Homo sapiens: one gene and its partners. The protein of the gene in region 4 purifies or fractionates together with the protein of the main gene of each other region. This does not show direct contact. Each region holds a gene or a part of one and is shown on either strand. Other genes may lie near its edges.

Region 1 (3,500 bases), on a different chromosome or scaffold from region 4:
GGGACTACAGCCACGTGCCACCATGTTTGGCTAATTATTTGTATTTTTTGTAGAGATGGGGTTTTGCCATGTTGTCCAGGCTGGTCTTGAACTCCTGAGCGTAGTTTTTTGGTGGACACAGGTGGATTGCTTGAGCGATCTGCCTGCCCTGACCTTCCAAAGTACTAGGATTACAGGTGTCAGCTACCACACCTGGCTTCATGTCTTGCTTTCTTTTTTGCTTTTCAGTTCCTTGCTCCATTTCTCTCTTTCCTCTCATATTTTACTGTAAGTAACAAGGAGAAACCAGGATGTCTCTTCCGCACTTTGCTTGGAAATCTCCTCAGCTAAATATCCGAGTTCATCCCTTACAAATTCTACTTTTCTCCCAACAGTAGACCGTAACTTAGCCAAGTTCTCTGTCACTTTATAACAAGTAACATCTTTTCTCAACTCTGTCTGAGACATCACCAGAGGAAACATTCATATTTCTGGCAAAATCCATCCATGACAACATATGTATTCTGTAAATAATAGAAGTTTTCTTTACAGCTCTCATCTCTTCTGAGTCTTCATCACAATTGCCTTTCATGTCCCTATTTCTACCAATGATCTCTTCAAGGCAATCTGGGCTTTTTCTGTCAAGCACTTCAAAACTCTTTCAGTCTCTACTCATTACCCAATTCCAAAGCCACTTTCATATTTTCAGGTGTTTGTTGTAGCAGCAACCCACTTTCTGGTGCTATAATCTGTATTAGTTTCCTAGGGCAGCTGTAACAAATTGCCACAAATTGTGTGGCCTAAAAAAATAGAAATTATTCTCTCACAATTCGGTAAGCTGGAAGTCCAAAATTCAGGTGTTGGCAGGTTTGGTTCCTTCTGGAGATTCTGAAGCAGAATCTGTTCTTTGCCTCTCTCCTAGTTTCTGATGGCTACTGGCAGTCCTTGACACTCCTTGACTTCTACACATATCACTCTAATCTTTGCCTCCATCTTTACGTGGTGTTCTCTCCTGTGTTTTCTGTGTCCAAATATCCATTGTCCTATAAAGACATCAGTCCATTGGTCTTAGGGTCTAACCCTAATCCGCTATGACCTCATTTTAACTTGATTCCATCTGCAAAGACACTTTTTCCAAATAAGAGACTGGGGCTCAATATATCTTTCTGGAGGCTATAATTCTATCTGCTACAGATAGTCAATACTTTCTCCTGAAAGATAAAAATTATAAAACTATACAAACAAAACAAAACAAAAATGACAATAATGGCCAACTATTGTATATCAATCTAACCCAGGGTCCCTATATTTTAACTGAACTCAAATTTTTTATTATGAGATTTTTATCAGACTGTCTTTATGACAAAATCTTATTTAAATCCACATGCAAAAAAATGATGCTGGGCTCTTATATCATTTGTAAAAATTAACTCAAAATGAAACAAAGACCTGAATATATGAGCTAAAACTATAAAACTCTTATTAGAAAACATAGGGGAAAAGCTTTATGACATTGCAGTTAACAATAATTTCTTGGATATGACACCACAAGTATAGGCATCAAAGGAAAAAAAAAATTGGACTTCATTTAAATTGAAAACTTCTGTACATCAAAAACTGTTGAAAAGGCAACCCACACAATGGGAGAAAATATTTGCAAATCACGTATACACTAAGGTATTAATCTCCAGAATATGTAAAGAACTTCTACAACAACAATTTAAAACAATCTGATTAAAAAATGAACAAAGGATTTGAATAAGCATGTCTCCAAAGAAGATACACAAATCGTCAATAAACAAATGAAAAGATGCTCAACATCACTAACCATTAAGGAAATGCAAATCAGAACCACGAGATACCGCTCTATTCCCATTATGACGGCTCTTATAAAAAATAAAAAAATTACAAGTGTTGGCAAGGATATGGAGCAACTGGAACCCTCGTGCATTGCTGGTAGAAATGTAAAATGGTGTAGCACCTACGGAAAAACCACATGGCTATTCCTCAAAAAATTAAACACAGAATTATCATATGATCCAGTAATTCCACTTCTGGGTATATACCCAAAAGAACTGAAAGCAAGCACCCGAACAGATATATTTGTATACTCATGTTCATAGCAGCATTATTCACAACAGCCAAAAGGTAGAAACAAATCAAATGTCCATTGACAGAGGAATGGCTAAACAAAAATGTGGTACATACATACAATGAAATGTTATTCAGCCTTAAAAAAGGATGAAATTCTGACACATGCTACACAATATGGATGAACCTTGAGGTAAAGTAAACCTTAAGGCTAAGTGAAATCAGTCACAAAAGGACAAACATTGTGTGATTCCACTATATGAGGTATCTAGAGTAATCGAATTCATAGTGACAGAAAGCAGAATGACAAATAATGGTGATAGTTACACAACATTGTGAATGTACTAATGCCACAGAACTGTCTACTTAAAAATAGTTAAAATGGGAAATTTGATGTATGTATCTTTTACTACAAAAAAAAGTAATGGGCTTCTATGCAAATTATGAGAATGACAGAAATTTACCACTGAACTTGATTTTATCAATGTTTACGACCTCAGGTCAATAAAGTATCTTTGAGGCCGGGTGCGGTGGCTCATGCCTGTAATCCCAGCACTTTGGGAGGCTGAGGCAGGTGGATCACTCAAGGTCAGGAGTTCGAGAGCAGCCTGGCCAACACGGTGAAACCCCATCTCTACTAAAACTACAAAAAATTGGCCAGGTGTGGTGGCACACTCCTATAATCCCAGCTACTCAGGAGGCTGAGACAGAAGAATCGCTTGAACCCAGGAGGTGGGTGCAGTAAGCAAAGATCGTGCCATTGCACTCCAGCCTGGGCAACAGAGTCAGACTTCATCTCAAAAAAAATAAATAAATAAATAAATAAAGTATCTTTGAATGTTTTCTGTTTCACTAAATAACATCTTTACAAAACAAATAAATATATTACCTCTTGAATTTCTTTTTCTAATAGCTCCACTCTTTCTCGAAGATGTCTCCTCTCAGTGTCAATAGAAAGAAGTTCCAGTCGAACTGAGCTGCTTTCTCCCTCAGCTTGATGGGCTTTGACCTCCCAGTCTTCAGCACGGTTATGAAGCATCTGAAATCTATCTAACAAATCTTGATTTTCTTTTTCCTGGTTTAATCACAATAAAATTGTTTCTAAATTAGTAATTGTCACTTCCTGGAACACCTATGTCATAAACACATACACATACACAGCATTCTGTTCTAATTTAGGAAGCATTAGATATCTGTGCAGGTACCACACTAAAATCTATGGGAAAAATAGAAAAAGGCAGTAGACAAGATCTCTACTTTAAAATGTTTAATATCTAATTGTAGAGGCACATGAAAAAGTTAAAAAAAAAAAAAACCTCAGTCTTAAATCCAACCTAAATAATATTTTTCACCTTGGCAGCCATTAAGCTCTCCCATCGTGACACCTCTGTTATGTATTTATGAACTCTGCTCTTCATTTCTTCTTTTTC
Region 2 (3,500 bases), on a different chromosome or scaffold from region 4:
GTCCCAGCCCCTGTCCCCCACCTGCCACCCACTGGGCTTCTGAATATTTTGCCAGGATGCCAACCCTTGTCCCCTGCTCCCCTCACCCAGCCCCTGCCCACTCCCTGGGCCCCCTTCCTGCTCTGGTTTGTGTTTCTCAGTGCTGTCCTCAGGTGCCTGGCTGTTAAAAGAGCAACTCTCAGCCCTGTTAGGAGACTCTCCCACTCACCATCTGGCTTTGGACAGTCCCTTCAGGGGGACGTAGTCGGGCAGCAGAAGAGGACACACTCAGGGAGTTGATCCCACAGAGGCATGCACACACTGGAGCAGACCCCTTGCCCACCACACCAGTCCAATCTCTCCAGGGCCCCACTCACGGGGTCTCCAGCTCAGCCAGCTCGTCCTCGCCGAGCTGGTCCTCCTGCAGCAACTCGGGTGGGGTGCTCACTTTGGCCTCTTTGGTCACTGCCAGAGGCAGTGAGGCCTCCTCGGTGGGTGTCAGGGGAACCTCACCTGCAAGGGGCCAAGGGTACTCAGCAGAAGCAAGGCAGGACAGGAGACGGGACAATCGAGTTGGGTGGACCCATCTCAGCACACTCCCTCACCCAGATTGTCTCGGAGAGCGCTGGCTTCCAGGTGAGGGTCGAAGTGATGGTTGGGCACCAGCTTCAGACGCATGCGTGAATATGTCTCGGCGCTGGACAGTTTCCAGCGGGGGATGGGAGTGTCCCTGCAGAATGTCCCCCAGGTCATGGGTCGGTAGAAGGCTGTAGACACCCCCATCCCTCCCTGGCCTCACCCCAAAGGCAGTCTGGGGCTCCAGGTGGCTCCCTCCCTCCCAAGCCCCACCCCTCCACAGCGACCCTGCCCCAAGCCCGGCCCACCTCAGCGCCCAGGCCCCACATGGGCTGGCGAGCTGGCGCCACAGCGCCCCCCAGTGCAGCAGGGCCATGGAGTGCTGCGTTGCCTGCTGCTTCAGCACTGCCGTGTAGCGTAGCCCCTCCAGGCGCGCCCGCCTCTGCGCAGGTTCCAGCACCAGCTCCTGGGGTGGGGGTAATAGGTCAGTCCCCTGGCTGCTGCCTGCCCTACCCGTTTCTCCACATTGTCAGTCATCTCCTGGGTGCATGTGTGGAGCAGTTTCCCATCCCTTACCCCGGGTGGCACACCTGGAAGGCCCGACGACTCTGGGCGCGCTCCCACTGGCGCCGCTGCCCACTGCTCATAAGCATGTCATAGCAGGCATTCCAGAAACCTGACATAAGGTCGTGGCTCTTAGCATACGTGTCCATTTCGAACTGGGACATGGTTGGCTGTACCTGGAGGATTGGGCAGAGGAGAACAGTGCTCGATGTGGGCCCCAGCCCCCACTCCTCTTCCTGGGCCCCAACCTCCAGGCACCTGTTTGTCGATGAAGTGGCGCCATTCGGGTGTGGCACAAAAAGCCTGGAAGTCTTCAAAGAAGGTGGGGCTGCCATTGGTGGGTGGCAGGGAGGGCAGTCCCCACTGCAGCCCCAGCGGCTCATAGGCACGGTCTAGCAGCGTGCGCACCAGTGGCACCAGCCAGGAGCAGCGCTCTGCAGCTGCTGCAGCTGCTGCAGCTGCAAGTGGGGACCCTGCCTCATCAGTGGCTGACTCCAAGGAAGAGGTGTTCAGCACCCGCCCCAGTGCAGCCTCCAGCTTGGAGAGCACATAGCAGGCCTCCTCGCGGCGGGCTGGCACTGCAGTCTGTAGCAGCATGTGCAATCTCACGTAGGCCTGGGCATGCAGCTGTGGGCGCAAGAGAGATGAGTGGCACCCAGCCACTCTTGGAGCTCCCGACATCTCACACGCCCCCTGCCCCCATGCTCACCCTGTGCTCACCTGTGGGTCTTCCAGCAGGATGTAGCCAAGTACAAGCCGTAGGCCAATCTGCGCCATCTCACGGAGATCAGCTGTGCCGTTGGCCAGGTGGGGCCAGGCTCCCAGGCGATCAAGTAGGCTGCATACACCTTCAAAGAGCTGCCACAGAAAACAGGTTCCCAACAGACATCACCAGGGGAGGCCAGGAGTCCATGGAAAGGGAGCAAAGTAAAGTTTGCGCTGGGGGCCAGGTAGGGTTTGTGCACACAGGCAAGTCCACACTCACAGGCATTCATGCTGATGCACCCACACCTGCGCACGTGTACCCATCCACCTCCCAGACCAGATCCCTGCAGGCTTGCATGAACATGAGTGTTCATGTGGCTCACGCCTCTCTGAGGGGTCGCACCTTCTCACTCCACAGTTCCTGGTTACCATGGCCTTCAGCACACAGGAAGTCCTGCAGCAGACGCAGCAGCCAAAGCGCTTGCTGGGTGAGGCTGGCCAGGACCCCCACGGGGGCCTCTTTGATGTCGGTCAGGGCTGACTCCAGCATCATCTCCAGGAGGCTGGCGGGTGAGTGGGGAACTCAAGGGTCTACCTGACTATCTTCTCTCCTTCCCCCGAGGCTTCCTGAAGCCCCTCCCCCTCCAGACTTTCCCTCTCACCTGCGCTTGATGCAGTCTGGTGGGCGCACAAGTGTGGCTGAGGCCCCCAGCTGGGTGAGCACTGAGAAAACCTGGCCACGCTCCCGCCAGGCAGCCTCATCGCTGCCTTCCACGCCACGCCACGTCACCGAGAACAGCACGTTGGTGAGCAGATTGCACAACTCTTCCTCAGAGGTTTGCTGTGGGCACAGGTGGGTGGTGTGGGCGTGGGTTGTGGGCGGCTAAGGGAGGGAATCAGGCTGACGCCCACCCATCCCCACTCAGCACCCCTCCTGGGGTAGCCACCCAGGAGTCAGAGCATTTGGCTAACAGTGAGCCTGGCACTAAGGGCCTGGAAGAATGGTATAGGGGTCTCAACTACTACCTGAGTTCCAGGCAGAATCCTGGGGTCTTGCCAGACTCCCAAGAGGAGATGAGGCAGTTCACATAGAACAAGCAGAGGCCCATCCCCAAACCCAGAAGCCCAGGGCAGGGCCTTTGGAGTTTGCTGCCCTTGGACCCTGTGAGGTGTCTGCCCTACAGGCTCTCTTGAGGGCCCTTCTGAAGCCTGGCTGGTGTCACCCACTGTGGCTCATCATGACTCACCCTGTTCCAGGAGCCCTCTGGGAACACAACTGCAGATGAGAGCTATGAGGGGACAGCAATAGGCCTGACCAGTGGCTGCAACCCTGGTCAGACAGGGCCACACCTTTGGAGAGGCTACACTGCCAGCCCTGTGTACCAGAAGTGTCCTCCCTTGGGTACCATGCAGTGGCAGAGGGTGGGCCCACCTCACCTGTGGGTTGCTGGTGTTCGAGGTATCATCCCCGCTAATGGTGGGCTCCGGGAGGCTGCCGTCCTCCAGCACATTGGAGAGACTGGAGCTGTGGCGGCCAGGAGCAGCAGGAAAGGGCCGCGGCCCATCCAGTGGCGAAGGAGTGCCGGGCTGGCTGGCTGGAGTAAGAGTCCCACTGCTGCCGCCACCACCAGCAGTGTTGCCTGATCCTACACTAGACCGTTCCAGGCCCAGGTCAA
Region 3 (3,500 bases), on a different chromosome or scaffold from region 4:
TTAAAATGCTGATTTTCAGAAAGAGAGCAGCAGGTGGAGTTAAGGGTTTAGGCTCTGGCGTCAGACTACTTAGGGACGTTGGGAAAGTTTCTTACCCTCTCTGTACCACAGTTTTCTCATTTGTAAAATGGGAACCAATCCTTCTTTGCTTTTTTTTTTTTTTGAGACGGAGTCTTGCTCGGTTGCCCAGCCTTGAGTGCAGTGGCGCAATCTCAACTCGCTGCAACCTCCGCCTCCCGGGTTCAAGCGATTCTCCTGCCTCAGCCTCCCGAGCAGTTGGGATTATAGGCGTGCACCACCACACCCAGCTCATTTTTGTATTTTTAGTAGAGACGGGGCTTCACCATGTTGGCCAGGCTGGTCTCGAATTCCTGACCTCAAGTGATCCACCTGCCTTGGCCTCCCAAAGTGCTAAGATTACAGGCATGAGCCACCATGCCCAGCCTAGATTGTAAAACTTATTTTTGCCACATTGGAGGAGAATGTTTGTTTTTATAGACAGGGTCTCACTCTGTTGCCCAGCCTTACTCTTGCCTCAGCCTACCAAGTAGCTGGGACTACAGGCGCCTGCCACCACACCTGGCTAATTTTTGTATTTTTAGTAGAGAAGGGGTTTCACCACATTGGCCAGGCTGGTCTTGAACTCCCGACCTCAGGTGATCCACTTGCCCTGGCCTCCCAAAGTGCCAGGATTAGAGGCGTGAGCCACTGTGCCTGGCCAAGTCCTTCTTTCATCGGGCTACTCTGTACATTACGTGAATATGTGTGTGTGTATGCGTATATTTATAATATACATAATGCATGTGAATAGAGTGCCTAAACAGTGACCACTCAAAGATTTATTATTGTTATGATTTCTACCTTTTTCTTAACTCATACAGGAAATGTATCATTTGCTGACAGAGCTAATAGGCATTATTAACCATTGCCCACAGTATAAAATAGATTAAATGTACTGATTAATATTTTGGTTATATGGGTTAAATATTAACCCATCATTTAATATGATATTTATTCTTGAAGCCAATAATGGTAAATCTTATAAAACAATTTTTTCTACAGCCTTTTCCTTTAGCATATTTCCTTTATTTTATTTATTTTTTACTTATATATTTTTTTGAGACAGAGTCTCGCTCTGTCACCTAGGCTGGAGTGCAGTGGTACGATCTCGGCTCACTGCAACCTCTACCTCCTGGGTTCAAGCAATTCTCCTGCCTCAGCCTCCAATGTAGCTGGGATTACAGACACCCGCCACCAAGCCCGGCTAATTTTTATATTTTTAGTAGAGATGGTGTTTCACCATGTTGGCCAGGCTGGTCTTGAACTCCTGACCTCAGGTGATCTGCCCACCTCAATTTCCTTTATTTTAAATGATGCTTGATTTGTTTGGTTGGGTAAACTTTTATCAGAAGACACTATTTGACAAATAAATTTTACTTTTGGCCAAATTTTTTAGCATTTAATATATATATGCAATATACATATATTATAATATATATAGAATAGATATGTTTTATATGTATTATGTATATATGTTTTCTGATTTCAACATTTATTACAATTTATATCATAAGATGGAAGTCATCAACATTTTTAAAAGGTTGATGCAGGCCAGGCTCAGTGGCTCACACCTGTACTCCCAGCACTTCAGGAGGCCAACGCAGGCGAATCACTTGAGGTCAGGAGTTCGAGACCAGCCTGGCCGACACAGTGAAACCCTGTCTCTACTAAAAATACAAAAAAATTAGCTCGATGTGGTGGCACGCACCTGTACTACTCAGGAGGCTGAGTGGGAGAATCGCTTGAACCCGGGAGGTGGTGGCTGCAGTGAGCCAAGATCGTGCCACTGCATTCCAGCTTGGGTGACAGAGTGAGACTCCCATCTCTTAAAAAAAAAAAAATAAGGATGATGTATATTGAAAGTAATTTTCAATTCAGTGGGAGAATCAGAACAAGATTCAAATACAATATTTGCCCTCCAAGTATTAAAGAATGAGATCCCCAATTTTAGGTCAGGAACCATTGACCCAGTCCCTGTTAAAAGCAGGTCAATGACTAATCAGTCATCTAATACACAGACTGTGAACAAAGACATTGATTTCTGCCTTTGAACAGAAACCTCTACCTACAAAGGCTGGGCAGCCTGGCACCTAGAATCTCATTTGCTAATTTTGTGGGAAAATTATTCATAAGAATTAGGTCTGTCAATACATCCAATCTGGTTCAATGGAATCCAGCAAAAGAAAATTCGAAGAATTAAGGATGCTATTATATGGTCCTGTCTATCAGTGGGGAAAATACCTCTGAACAAAACTAGAAATCTCTTCAGTGGTAAAAACCATATGCTCCCTAGAAGGCTGCAATCATCAGCACAGTTTACCATCACATAAGCATAAGTCACTGGACAATCTGATACCCTAAAGGTGGTTATTAGGTGCTTGTAATGATAAAAATTGGAAACAGCCTAGGGTTCCAGCAGTCAGGGACTGGTTAAACAAGATAAGTTAATAACCCAAACGTTAGGACTGGTTATCTCTAGGTGGCAAGATAAGGAGTGATTTTTACCTTGTAGCTTTTCTTGGTACTTTTTCATATCTTTCAAAATTTTATTTTCCACTATGACATATATATTACTACTGTAGTAAAAATAAAAACTAAAATCTGTATAATGCAATGGTGAACACAAGGCTGAATTGTGTTCTGGGCAAGGAACTTCTCAGAGCTTCAGTTTTCTTATCTGCAAAGGAGGGAGTGACAGTAGATAATGCTCACAGGTCCTTCTCCTTCTAAAATTCTAAATCCATTTACTCAGTAAAAAGGATCAACTAATCCCTTGCACAACCTGCAAAGATGCTATTCCTCCCTCCCATAACAAATTTTCAAGTGTCTCCTGAATCTTTCAGAATAACATGAAAGCTGTATACCTATTGTGGAATTTGATTAGAATCCGGAACAGTCAGAGTTGGAACAATGTTCACAACAAAATGCAAGTTAATAATGAAGGAAAAATAAAATCAGTCAAATCAGCCTAATGCTTTGGGAAAAATCTAAATTCAGTTAATTCTACCACAAACAACATGTAACCTGCTTATGACTGGCAACGCTGAAGGAGGATTCAAAGGCTCTCATCTCGCGCTGCTTGCCTGACCTCTTGCTTTCTAGGAGCTGACTTACCCTGTCAGATGCATACACGGCATCGAATAGCCCAAGGAGGGTGACGGAGATGCCCACAGCTGGACCATTGACCACTGCAATCAGAGGCTTAGGAAAATCTATAAAACAGCCCACAAATTCCCTACAGAAATGGAAACACAAAATCATTAAATGTGCCAAAGCAGCATGACTAAAGCATGGGCAAGACAGTCTGACTCTGAGATAAAGCCTTCTGTCAGGCTGGGTGTTTCCACAGCCACCACCAGCAGTGCCTCCTTGTCCTGCCACTTCCCTGGTCTTCCGCACCAGATTCATCCAGGGCATCCGTCTGAATGGCAGTGGATGGA
Region 4 (3,500 bases):
ACATTATTATCTCATGGAAGTCTTCTCAACAACCTGTGAAGTAGGCAGATTATTCTCCATTTACTCTTAACAAAATGGCACTGAGAGGACTGCGTAACTTGCTCAGTCAGGATTATTTAGCAGAGTGAGTAGAACCCCAGAATAGGTACAGTTGAGTCTAGAGGGTCCCCAAAGCAAAAGTACTATTTAAGCTCTGTTTACTGCCATGATTCAAGCCTATACTGTCAGTGCTTATTTGGCATGTGTATCATCTTGATTTGAATTCGTTCTTAATCTCCTGGAATGAGCATTGCCTTTTAGATCTGGTAACTAATTTGCTATCAGAGAAGTACATTCTTAACACCTCATGAAACATACATTTCCTGCTCCCTTGATTTCCGTCATGTTAATATTTTCTCTCTTTGCCTACTAAATCTTGGCTGTGTGAATTTAGGACCTATTTTAAGTTTTGTCTTCAGAAGAAAATAACTTCTCAAGTTAATAATCTCTGTGCTGGGAGGATATTAGCAATTATCTAATATATCTGTCTACGGCAACGCACGTTTGTATTCCATTTCAGTTTGTCACAATGAGTCTTGCACATATCATCTTATTTATTCCTCTTAGTGATATCAGGAGGTAAATAAATACATAAGAAAAGCTGAGATTCAGAGAGGTTGTAAATACCTTGCCTCATATAACACAGCTAGTAAATGGTCAAGATGAGATTAGAATCCAAGGACTTCTGACCCACTTTAAGTCCATTGTACTTTCTGTGATGAGCAGTTGTATGCTTAACATTGGCATTGTGATTAGGAACACTGCCATATAAGGCATTGATTCTAGAAAGTTTGTTTTTTACATTGAACCTAAATGTGATTCTTTAACTTTTATCTGTTGATTCTAGATTTGCCTCTGGAGCAACACAGAATGAATTATCCTATGCCTCTTCTACAGCATGTCACTACAGTTATTTAAAAACTATTACCCTCATGTCTCCCTCACCCTACCTCACCCAGTTTGCTCTGCCAATCACAACTCAGATTCTTTTCATCTTAACATTGTTTCTAACCTCATCCTGCTGTACTGCTCACTGTCCTTTGAAGGGCCTTTAGTTTGTTAGTCTCCTTCAGAATGAACACTTACTTCAGATGCAGAGGAGCATGGGCCTAGTACCAACTTCATTATAAATAATGTGCTTATATTGTATAGCTTAACAAATTGCTTTTTTGTTTGTTTTTTTCAGCACTCTCACAGTGTTGACTCTTGTTGAACTTAACATCAATCTAGCTTCCCAGGTCTTTTTCACATTAGCTTTTATTAAGCCAAGTCTCTCTTATCCTGAACTTGTGTGGTTGGTTTTTTGTTTTTGTTTTTCTTGTTCCTTTTTCTAAGACTTTACATTTCTCTTTAGATTGTTTTCTAGTTAGGTTTGCACCATCATTTCAGTCTGCTGAAATCTTGGTCAATGATGATTATATTGTTTTAGGTATGTGATATCCCTCTTCAGCATTTTCATCTGCAGCTTTGATAAGGATGGCTTTTTAATCCTTGAATTGGATCCTACTCACATTATCCACCTTGTTTTGAAAACGTTTCCCCTAACTAGCTTATGTCATTGCCATTTCAGTCACCCCCTGCTGCTTTTGCTCACTCAGCCCTTATAGAGTATAGTTTGGGACTGTTACCCAGGCATAGTTCTTTTTCTCCAGTGTAACTAGGTAAAAAATCAGTGGGAAGCTGGTTAGTGAGTGAACAAGACTGAGGTAAGAATAATCTATACTATTAAGGAAACCTGTGAACTTCTTGTATTTCTAATTCAGATTTTGCTATCAAACATATAACTGATATGAGAAGCCACTTTTTTTAAATAATCAAAGCTGATTAGAAAAACAAGAGTTTAGAACACAACTAAACAAATTTACTGATAACATGCTGTTACAAATAAAGTACTGTAAATGGCTTTGAGTTTTTGCAAAATCCAGATTTAAGCTGCTTTATAAAAACGAGATTTCTAAAAAGTCATGTGACAAAACTGCATGACATGTAAATAACATATCACATTGTTGAGAGTCTAGGGGAGCTGTTTTGACACTGTGTATATCATTGGATTCACTCAGTCTTCCAGAAGACTACCGTTGGTCCAGAAAACTGTCATATCAATGGATGTTGGTTTTCCAGGACCTTTTTTTTCACATATAATAAAACTTATTGAAACGTAACAGAGAAGTGCACAATTTTAAGTGTTCAGCTTAGTGAATTTTCACAAAATAAAGACACACATTGGCCAGGTGCGGTTGCTCATGCCTGTAATCCCAGCACTTTGGGAGGCTGAGGGGGGAGCGGATCATGAGGTTAAGAGTTCGAGACCAGCCTGGTCAATATGGTGAAACCCCATCTCTACTAAAAAATACTAAAATTAGCTGGCATGGTAACATGCGCCTGTAGTCCCAGCTACTTGGGAGGCTGAGGCAGGAGAATTGCTTGAACCCGGGAGGCGGAGGTTGCAGTGAGCCAAGATCGTGCCACTCTACTCCATCCTGGGTGACAGAGTGAGACTCCGTCTCAAAAAAAAAAAAAAAAAAAAAGGCACACATGGTATCACTACTAGATCAAGAAATAGGAATTACTGGTGCCCAAGAAATCTCCCTCATCCCCCTCAGTTATTTTCTAATACCCCAAAGATAACTGCTATACTGAGCCATAGATTAGTTTTGCCTATTTTTGAACTTCATGTGAGTGAAATAATACTGTATGTACTCATGAGTCTGGCATCTTTCACTTGACATTGTATTATTGTGAGAGTCATCCATGTTGTGTGTAGTAGTAGTTTATTCCCGTTCCTGTACAATAGTTCATTGTATGAATATAACACAATCTGTTTATCCATTTTAATATTAATGGTCATTGAAGTTTTTTGGTTATTATGAAAAGTGCTGCTGTGTGTCTTTTGATGCTGTATGTGTCCCTTTAGATGTATGTGTTTGTTTGTGTGTGTTTAATTTTGTTTGGATATCTATTAAGGATTGGAATTGCCTGATTATAGAGTATATACATGTTCTGCGTTAATGGGTATTGTTAAACATTTTTCCAAAGTGGTTGTTTCAGTTTATATTCTCACCAGCAGTGTTTCAGTGTTTCAGTTTTTTTGCATCCTTATCAACACTTGGTATTGTTAAACTTTTAAGGTTTAGCAATCCTAGTGGATGTTTAGTGGTATCATGATAATGGATTTAATTTACATTTCCCTGATGACTAATGAGGTTTCACTTTTTTTATTTGATTATTGTTAATTTGTATTTCCTCTTTTATGAAATGCTGATTCAAGTCTTTTTCCCATTTTTTGACTAGGTTTTATGTCTTACTGATTTTGTAGGAGTTCTTTGTGAATTCTACACATCAGTTTTTTATCCATTATATGTATTACAAATTTCTCACTGCAGGACTTTTTATTTTCTTAATGAGCACTTGAATGTAAACGCTGCATGCTGGGTACAGTGGCTCATGCCTGTAATCCCAGC
Region 5 (3,500 bases), on a different chromosome or scaffold from region 4:
TCTTCTCCATGGGAGAGGCAGTGCCCTATGCACACTATGGTAAGAATGCAGTAACCGACCAGCTGATCACAGGTCCTAAGCCAGGGCCCATTGCCCGAGGGCCTGGGACCTGCTGACTACACAGCCTAGCAGGGAGAGGCTATCCCCAAGGCTCACAGAAAGCCAGGAAGGGTGGGTGGTGCGGGGGTCGGAGGGGAATGGGGCTGCAGACTTCTGTGCGCCCCTCTCCCAGAGCACCTGGGCACGCCTTTCGCCCAGTTCCTACTGAACATCGTCGAGGATGGGCTGCCCTTGGACACCACAGAGCAGCTGCCGGACCTCTGCGTGAACCTGCTTCTGGCTCTCAACCTGCACCTGCCAGGTGGGGTGGGGCCTGGCTGGGCGGTGGCTGAGCACATGGTGGCTCTCAGGCTCAGCACCCTGTCTATACCCATGTCCTTCCTTAGCTGCTGACCAGAATGTCATCATGGCTGCCCTGAGCAAACACGCCAATGTCAAGATCTTCTCCGAGAAGCTGTTGTTGCTCCTGAACAGAGGGGGTGAGGGCCCGGGAATCTGCGCGGGTACCACTTCCATGCCCTGTGACTCCATGACCCCTGCAATGACTCCCGTAACCCCCTGGGGTGACTCTGGGATCCCCACAAGGTCCACCCTGACCGCTATGACCCCTGCCTCCTAGATGACCCTGTGCGCATCTTCAAACATGAGCCACAGCCACCACACTCTGTCCTCAAGTTCCTGCAGGACGTGTTTGGCAGCCCGGCCACAGCTGCCATCTTCTACCACACAGACATGATGGCTCTCATTGACATCACTGTGCGGCACATCGCAGACCTGTCACCAGGAGACAAGGTGCCTGGAGGTGGCTGCAGCAGCGGGGGTCACTGTGTGGAAACTGAAACAAAATGGTGGGGGGCATGACATTGAGTGGAGATGAGGGGGCAAGGCCACTGCTGGAGCCAGGTAAGTGTAGGAGGCCATGATAGGTGCACCAAGACCCAAAGGAGCCAGCCATGAGGTGATCTGGAGGTGGTGGGGCTGGAGGAGGCTGGAGAGGAGGGAGTGGAGGGAGATGAGGCATGGAGGATGGAGTTTACACAAAGCCTCGGAGGCTGCTGCAAGAGGTTGTGATCTCAGGACCGGGGAATGTGATGTGATTAACATCCCACATGGAATCAACTGCATGCCAGCAGAGTGGAAGCCAGCCAGGGAGGAAGCAGCCTCAGTGGTCCAGGTGGCATGGATGGGGTGGGGATGGGATAGGTCGTGGCAGTGGCAGTGGCGAGAAGAGGCCAGCTGTGGAGTGTTTAGTAAGTGGATCTGGCAGGGCTTGCCACTTGATTTATCTTGAGCAGCTAGATGGATGAAGTGCTGATTTTTGAAGTTGGGGAGGCTGGGAGAACTTCTTGGGGGAAAATAGAGAGTCGTGTTTTGAATGTGTCAAGAATGAGGAGATATCTGCTAGACACCCAGGTACCGAGGGCATCAGGGAGGCAGTGGGGAATGAGTTGAGACTAGAGAGACATTTCGGAGTGGTCTATGCAGAGATACGATGGGAAGCCTGTGACAATGTGATTGCCTCAGAAATGAGATAGATAGGCAGGTCAGCGGGAAGTTCGGGCTGCAGCCCTGGGCACAGCTGAAACAACTAGGGAGAAACCCAGGAAGAGAACCAAGAAAGCAGGAGCCCAAAGCCACATGTTTAGAGGAAGACGATCAGCCATCTCTATACCGTTAGGAGCCTGAGCGAGACTGGGGTTGGCCATTGGATTCACCACACAGAGGTCAGTGGTGCCTGACAAGCAGTGTCAGTGGGGTGCAAGGAGGAGAGTCTGAATGAAAGTTTGAGAGAGCTTGAAGTTATTGGGGAGTAGAAATGAGGGGAGGGTTGGAAGCAGTAAATGGAGACAACTCTTGTGAATTTTCTATTAAGGGGAAGAGAAAAATGGAAGGGAGGTTGCTGGAGAGAGATGACATGGGGATAGGGAGAGTGTTTTTTTGGGGGTTTTTTGTTGTTGTTGTTTGTTTGTTTGTTTGTCTCCCACTGTTGCCAAGGCTGGAGTGTAGTGGCACGATCGTGGCTCACTGTAACCTCCGCCTCCTGGTTTCAAGTGATTCTCCTGCCTCAGCCTCCCAAGTTGCTGGGATTACAGTCACCCACTACCACACCCAGCTAATTTTTATATTTTAGCAGAGACAGGGTTTCGCCATGTTGGCCAGGCTGGTCTTGAACTCCTGACCTCATGCAATCCACCTGCCTCAGCCTCCCAAAGTGTTGGGATTACAGGTGTGAGCCACCGTGCCTGGCCAGGGAGAGTGTTTTGAAGATGGGGGATGTTGGCCAGGCGCGGTGGCTCATGCTTGTAATCCCAGCACTTTGGGAGGCTGAGGTGGGTGGATCACTTGAGGTCAGGAATTCGAGACCAGCCTGGTCAAAGTGGTCTCTACTAAAAATACAAAATACGAAAAATACAAAAATTAGCTGGGTATGGTGGTGGGAGCCTGTAATCCCACCTACTTGGGAGGCTGAGGCAGGAGAATTGCTTGAACCCGGGAGGTGGAGGTTGCTGTGAGCCAAGATCACACCACTGCACTCCAGCTTGGGTGACAGATGGGGGATGTTGGCCAGGTGCAGTGGCTCACGCCTATAATCCCAGCACTTTGGGAGGCCGAAGTGGGAGGATCACTTGAGTCCATGAGTTCAAGATCAGCCTGGGCAACATAGTGAGACCTCTGTATAACCTGATGGACCACAGTAGAAAATAAAATTAGCTGGGCATGGTGGTATGCACCTGTAATTCCAACTACTTTGGAGGCTGAAGTGGGAAGATTACTTGAGCCCAGGAGGTCAAGGCTGCATTGAGCCATGATTGTGTCATTGCACTCCAGCCTGGGCAACAAAGCCAGACCTTGTCTCTTTAAAAAACAAAAACAAAAATGGTACGGATGATGGTGCATGTTCTGAGCCGGAGGGAATGATCCAGCAAGCACAGAGAGATGGATGATGTGTTGGAGATGGTGAGCCACCACAGGAGTCAAGTGGATGGGGCAGGAGGGGAGAGTTCAGGTCCAGGCCCACATGGACAGGAGCTAGGGCTGCTCATTCTGGTAGGGACAGGTGAGATGTGGGTACTGAGGGGAAAGACGGGTTTCTGCAAGATTACTTCTGTATTCTCTATGAAGCACAAGGCCAGCTGACAAGGTAGGTAGGTTTCAAAGACAGAGAAGGTGGACATTATTACTACTCTAAGGGAGAGTGACACAGCAGAGAAAAGCAGTGGGAGGCTCAGGCAGTGCTGTGTGTCCGTTTGAGGTTTGCGGTGGTGAATGACATTCAGGCCTGCACATGGCTCTGCATTTGTCTATAGCTTAGACGCTGGTGTTTGATGTGCAGGCACCTCAGTATGACTCCCAGGGCTGGGACTTAGCAGGGTGTGCTGCCTAAAGGAGGTTTTGGTATTATTTCTCTAATTAAAGGTAAAAAGAGAAATGAGGGATGT
Region 6 (3,500 bases), on a different chromosome or scaffold from region 4:
TTTTGAGATGGAGTCTCACTCTGTTGCCCAGGCTGGAGTGCAGTGGCACAATCTCGGCTCACTGCAACCTCCACCTCCCAGGTTCAAGCGATTCTCCCACCTCAGCCTCCCAAGTAGCTAGGATTACAGGCACGTGCCAGCATGCCCGGTTAATTTTTGTATTTTTAGCAGAGATGGGGTTTCACCCTGTTGCCCCAGGCTGGTCTCAAACTCCTGGACTCAAGTGATCTGCTCGCCTTAGCCTCCCAAAGCGCTGGGATTACAGGCATGAGCCATCACACCTGGCCAAAATAATTTAATTTTTTAAAAAGGCTGGGCGCAGTGGCTCACGCGTGTAATCCCAGGACTTTGGGAGGCTGAGGCAGGTGGATCACCTGAGGTTGTAAGTTTGAGACCAGCCTGGCCAACATGGTGAAACCCCATCTCTACTAAAAACACAGAAATTAGCCGGCGTGGTGGCGCATGTCTGTAATCCCAGGTACTGGGGAGGCAAAGGCACGAGAATTGCTTGAACCCAGGAGGTAGAGGTTACAGTGAGCTGAGATCATGCCACTGTACTCCAGCCTGGGCAACAGAGTGAGACTGTCCCAAAAAAAAAAAAAGAAAAAAGAAAAAAGACACGGTGGCTCACGCCTATAATCCCAGCACAAAAAAGTCAAGCCCTTTCACCATGGGTTGTGACCACAGCAAATTTGTTCTTATACCTGCCAGCATCCACCCTACCTTTCTTCTGTATTGTCTTCAGTTGGGTCCTCCCACTGATGTGCTGTCTCGCCCCTCCTTCCCTAGCACTTGGCTGCTGTTGAGGAAAGGAAGATCAAATCTTTGGTGGCCCTGCTGGTGGAGACCCAGATGAAAAAGTTGGAGATCAAACTTCGGCACTTTGAGGAGCTGGAGACTATCATGGACCGGGAGCGAGAAGCAGTGAGTAGCAGGAGCCCTGGAACCCTGCTGCGCTGTGCCTCAGTTTAAAATCGGAGGGGCGTGTGTGTGTGTGTGTGTGTGTGTGTGTGTGTGTGTGTGTGTGTGTGTTTCAGTGAAAGAGAGATAAGCAACAGTGGGGAAAGCCTGAGTGTGTGTGTGTGTGTGTGTGTTTCAGTGAAAGATAAGCAACAGTGGGGAAAGCCTGAGACAGACAGGGCTTCAAAGCAGAGCAGGGCAGGAACAGGGCAGGAGTAGGGCAGCCAGTTAGAGACAGTTAAGTGGTCTCACAAGTGAAGTCTGGGGACTGAAGTCCCACAGAAGGTCAGCTCCATGAGGCAGGGACTCTAGTTGGTTGTTTTGATTGCTGCATCTCCAGGTCCTTGAACAGTGCTTGGCCCATAGTAGACTCAAATAGTGATTGAGTGAATGGGCGTAACGGATGATGAGAGAGAGGGTAAGAGCCTCAGATCCAGGAGGTGAACTTGGAAAGGGAATGGGACCGACACAGTGTTGAACCATTTTGTCTTTGGAGGACATAAAAAGAAATAGACAATAGGGACTGGGCACAGTGGCCCACATTTGTAATCCTAGTACTTTGGTACACTGAGGCAGATGGATCACTTGAGCCCAGGAGTTCAAGACCAGCCTGGGTAACATAGTGAGATCTCTGTCTCAACAATTTATTTTATTTATTTATTTATTTATTTATTTGAGACAGAGTTTCGCTCTTGTTGCCCAGGCTGGAGTGCAATGGTGTGATCTTCGCTCACCACAACGTCCGCCTCCTGGGAAGCGATTCTCCTGCCTCAGCCTCCCCAGTAGCTGGGATTACAGGCATGTGCCACCATGCCCAGCTAATTTTGTATTTTTAGTAGAGATGGGGTTTCTCTATGTTGGTCAGGCTGGTCTCGAACTCCCGATCTCAGGTGATCAGCCCATCTCTGCTTCCCAAAGTGCCGGATTACAGGTGAGTCATCACGCTTTTTTTTTTTTTTTTGAGATGGAGTCTTACTCTTTCGCCCAGGCTGGAGTGCAGTGGTGCAATCACGGCTCACTGCAACCTCCGCCTCCTGGGTTCAAGCGATTCTCCTGCCTCACCTCCCGAGTAGCTGGGATTACAGGCACATGCCACCATGACCAGCTAATTTTTGTATTTTTAGTAGAGACAGGGTTTCACCATGTTGGCCAGGCTGGTCTCAAACTCCTGACCTCAGGTGATCCGCCCACCTCAGCCTCCCAAAGCGCTGGGATTTCAGGCATGAGCCACCGTGCCCAGCCCAAACATTTTTTAAAAATAAACAAATTAGCCGGGCGTGGTGGTGCGAGCCTGTGGTCCCAGCTACTCAGGAAGCTGAGGTGGGAGGATCGTTTGAGCCCAGGAGGTCAAGGCTGCACTGAGCCATGTTTGCCCCATTGCATTCCAGCCTGGGTGACAGAGTGAGACCCTATCTCAAAAAAAAAAAAAAGAAGAAAAAGAAATAGAAGATAGGGACCTCAGAGAACTTAAGGTTTAATGGGAGACATCAAATGAATATACAATATGGAGACATCAGAAACAGTTAAGAAGGTTTAAAGTATCTGACAAATTCACATTAAGAGATTGCACATCAGCCGGGCGCGGTGGCTCACACCTGTAATTCCAGCACTTTGGGAGGCTGAGGCAGGTGGATCACGAGATCAAGGAGATCGAGACCATCCTGGCTAACATGGTGAAACCCCGTCTCTACTAAAGAATAAAAAAATACAAAAAATTAGCCCGGCATGCTGGCACACACCTGTAATCCCAGCTACTCGGGAGGCTGAGGCAGGAGAATTGCTTGAACCGGGGAGGCGGAGGTTGCAGTGAGCTGAGATCACGCTACTGTACTCCAGCCTGGGTGACAGAGTGAGACTCAGTCTCAAAAAAATAAAGAGATTGCACATCAAGTTTCTAAGTCCTGAGATCATAGAATAAAGCTAAAGCTCAGAGGCAAATGAATTGATCTGGGATAGCTTCCTAAGAACAGTGACTTTTTAGTGAATTTTGAAGTAAGAAAAGAACTTGAATTGACAAAAGGAACTGGAAGCATTTTCCAAATCAAGGTAATGGCAAGTTCAAAGCTTTGTAGCTGAAGTGAGCTTGGGCCAGGTTAAAGTCATTGCAATAAGAAACCATGTGGGCACTCAGGAGACATAAAGGTCATGGGAATTTGCACGAAGTCGGGTGGGGAGGACAGAGGGAGCACAAGCACAAGATGTAGATTTTGGGAACCTTCTGATTGAGAGGCAGGCTCTTTCAGAAGAAGACAAAGCAGGGGTTGAGGCATTTGCCTTTGGGATCTGCTGAAAATTGGATAACAATACTCAATTGGCACTGGCAGCTGGAGTATCAGAGGCAGCAGCTCCTGGCCGACAGACAAGCCTTCCACATGGAGCAGCTGAAGTATGCGGAGATGAGGGCTCGGCAGCAGCACTTCCAACAGATGCACCAACAGCAGCAGCAGCCACCACCAGCCCTGCCCCCAGGCTCCCAGCCTATCCCCCCAACAGGGGCTGCTGGGCCACCCGCAGTCCATGGCTTGGCTGTGGCTCCAGCC

Evidence for each region.
Region 1: the proteins of YLPM1 (region 4) and CEP135 purify together in Homo sapiens (co-immunoprecipitation; one large-scale study listed by IntAct). This does not show direct contact.
Region 2: the proteins of YLPM1 (region 4) and NBEAL2 purify together in Homo sapiens (tandem affinity purification; one large-scale study listed by IntAct). This does not show direct contact.
Region 3: the proteins of YLPM1 (region 4) and ECI2 purify together in Homo sapiens (co-immunoprecipitation; one large-scale study listed by IntAct). This does not show direct contact.
Region 5: the proteins of YLPM1 (region 4) and NCKIPSD purify together in Homo sapiens (co-immunoprecipitation; one large-scale study listed by IntAct). This does not show direct contact.
Region 6: the proteins of YLPM1 (region 4) and SMARCC2 fractionate together in Homo sapiens (co-fractionation; one large-scale study listed by BioGRID). This does not show direct contact.

Annotation. Positions count from the first base shown.
Region 1 is NC_000004.12:56,011,445-56,014,944, reverse strand, and holds part of CEP135 (centrosomal protein of 135 kDa), read right to left. Parts: coding exon 3,423-3,500; intron 3,146-3,422; coding exon 2,960-3,145; intron 1-2,959. UniProt on the Homo sapiens protein: Centrosomal microtubule-binding protein involved in centriole biogenesis. Acts as a scaffolding protein during early centriole biogenesis.
Region 2 is NC_000003.12:47,000,166-47,003,665, reverse strand, and holds part of NBEAL2 (neurobeachin-like protein 2), read right to left. Parts: coding exon 3,262-3,500; intron 2,666-3,261; coding exon 2,487-2,665; intron 2,388-2,486; coding exon 2,228-2,387; intron 1,978-2,227; coding exon 1,840-1,977; intron 1,747-1,839; coding exon 1,378-1,746; intron 1,296-1,377; coding exon 1,146-1,295; coding exon of another isoform or gene 1,132-1,145; intron 1,022-1,131; coding exon 864-1,021; intron 710-863; coding exon 585-709; intron 493-584; coding exon 357-492; intron 1-356. UniProt on the Homo sapiens protein: Probably involved in thrombopoiesis. Plays a role in the development or secretion of alpha-granules, that contain several growth factors important for platelet biogenesis.
Region 3 is NC_000006.12:4,122,076-4,125,575, forward strand, and holds part of ECI2 (enoyl-CoA delta isomerase 2), read right to left. Parts: exon of another isoform or gene 3,296-3,500; coding exon 3,175-3,295; exon of another isoform or gene 2,885-3,174; intron 1-2,884. UniProt on the Homo sapiens protein: Able to isomerize both 3-cis and 3-trans double bonds into the 2-trans form in a range of enoyl-CoA species. Has a preference for 3-trans substrates.
Region 4 is NC_000014.9:74,783,816-74,787,315, forward strand, and holds part of YLPM1 (YLP motif-containing protein 1), read left to right. Parts: intron 1-3,500. UniProt on the Homo sapiens protein: Plays a role in the reduction of telomerase activity during differentiation of embryonic stem cells by binding to the core promoter of TERT and controlling its down-regulation.
Region 5 is NC_000003.12:48,675,916-48,679,415, reverse strand, and holds part of NCKIPSD (NCK-interacting protein with SH3 domain), read left to right. Parts: coding exon 1-39; intron 40-232; coding exon 233-361; intron 362-446; coding exon 447-539; intron 540-679; coding exon 680-852; intron 853-3,500. UniProt on the Homo sapiens protein: Has an important role in stress fiber formation induced by active diaphanous protein homolog 1 (DRF1). Induces microspike formation, in vivo. In vitro, stimulates N-WASP-induced ARP2/3 complex activation in the absence of CDC42.
Region 6 is NC_000012.12:56,165,484-56,168,983, reverse strand, and holds part of SMARCC2 (SWI/SNF complex subunit SMARCC2), read left to right. Parts: intron 1-789; coding exon 790-924; intron 925-3,284; coding exon 3,285-3,500. UniProt on the Homo sapiens protein: Involved in transcriptional activation and repression of select genes by chromatin remodeling (alteration of DNA-nucleosome topology).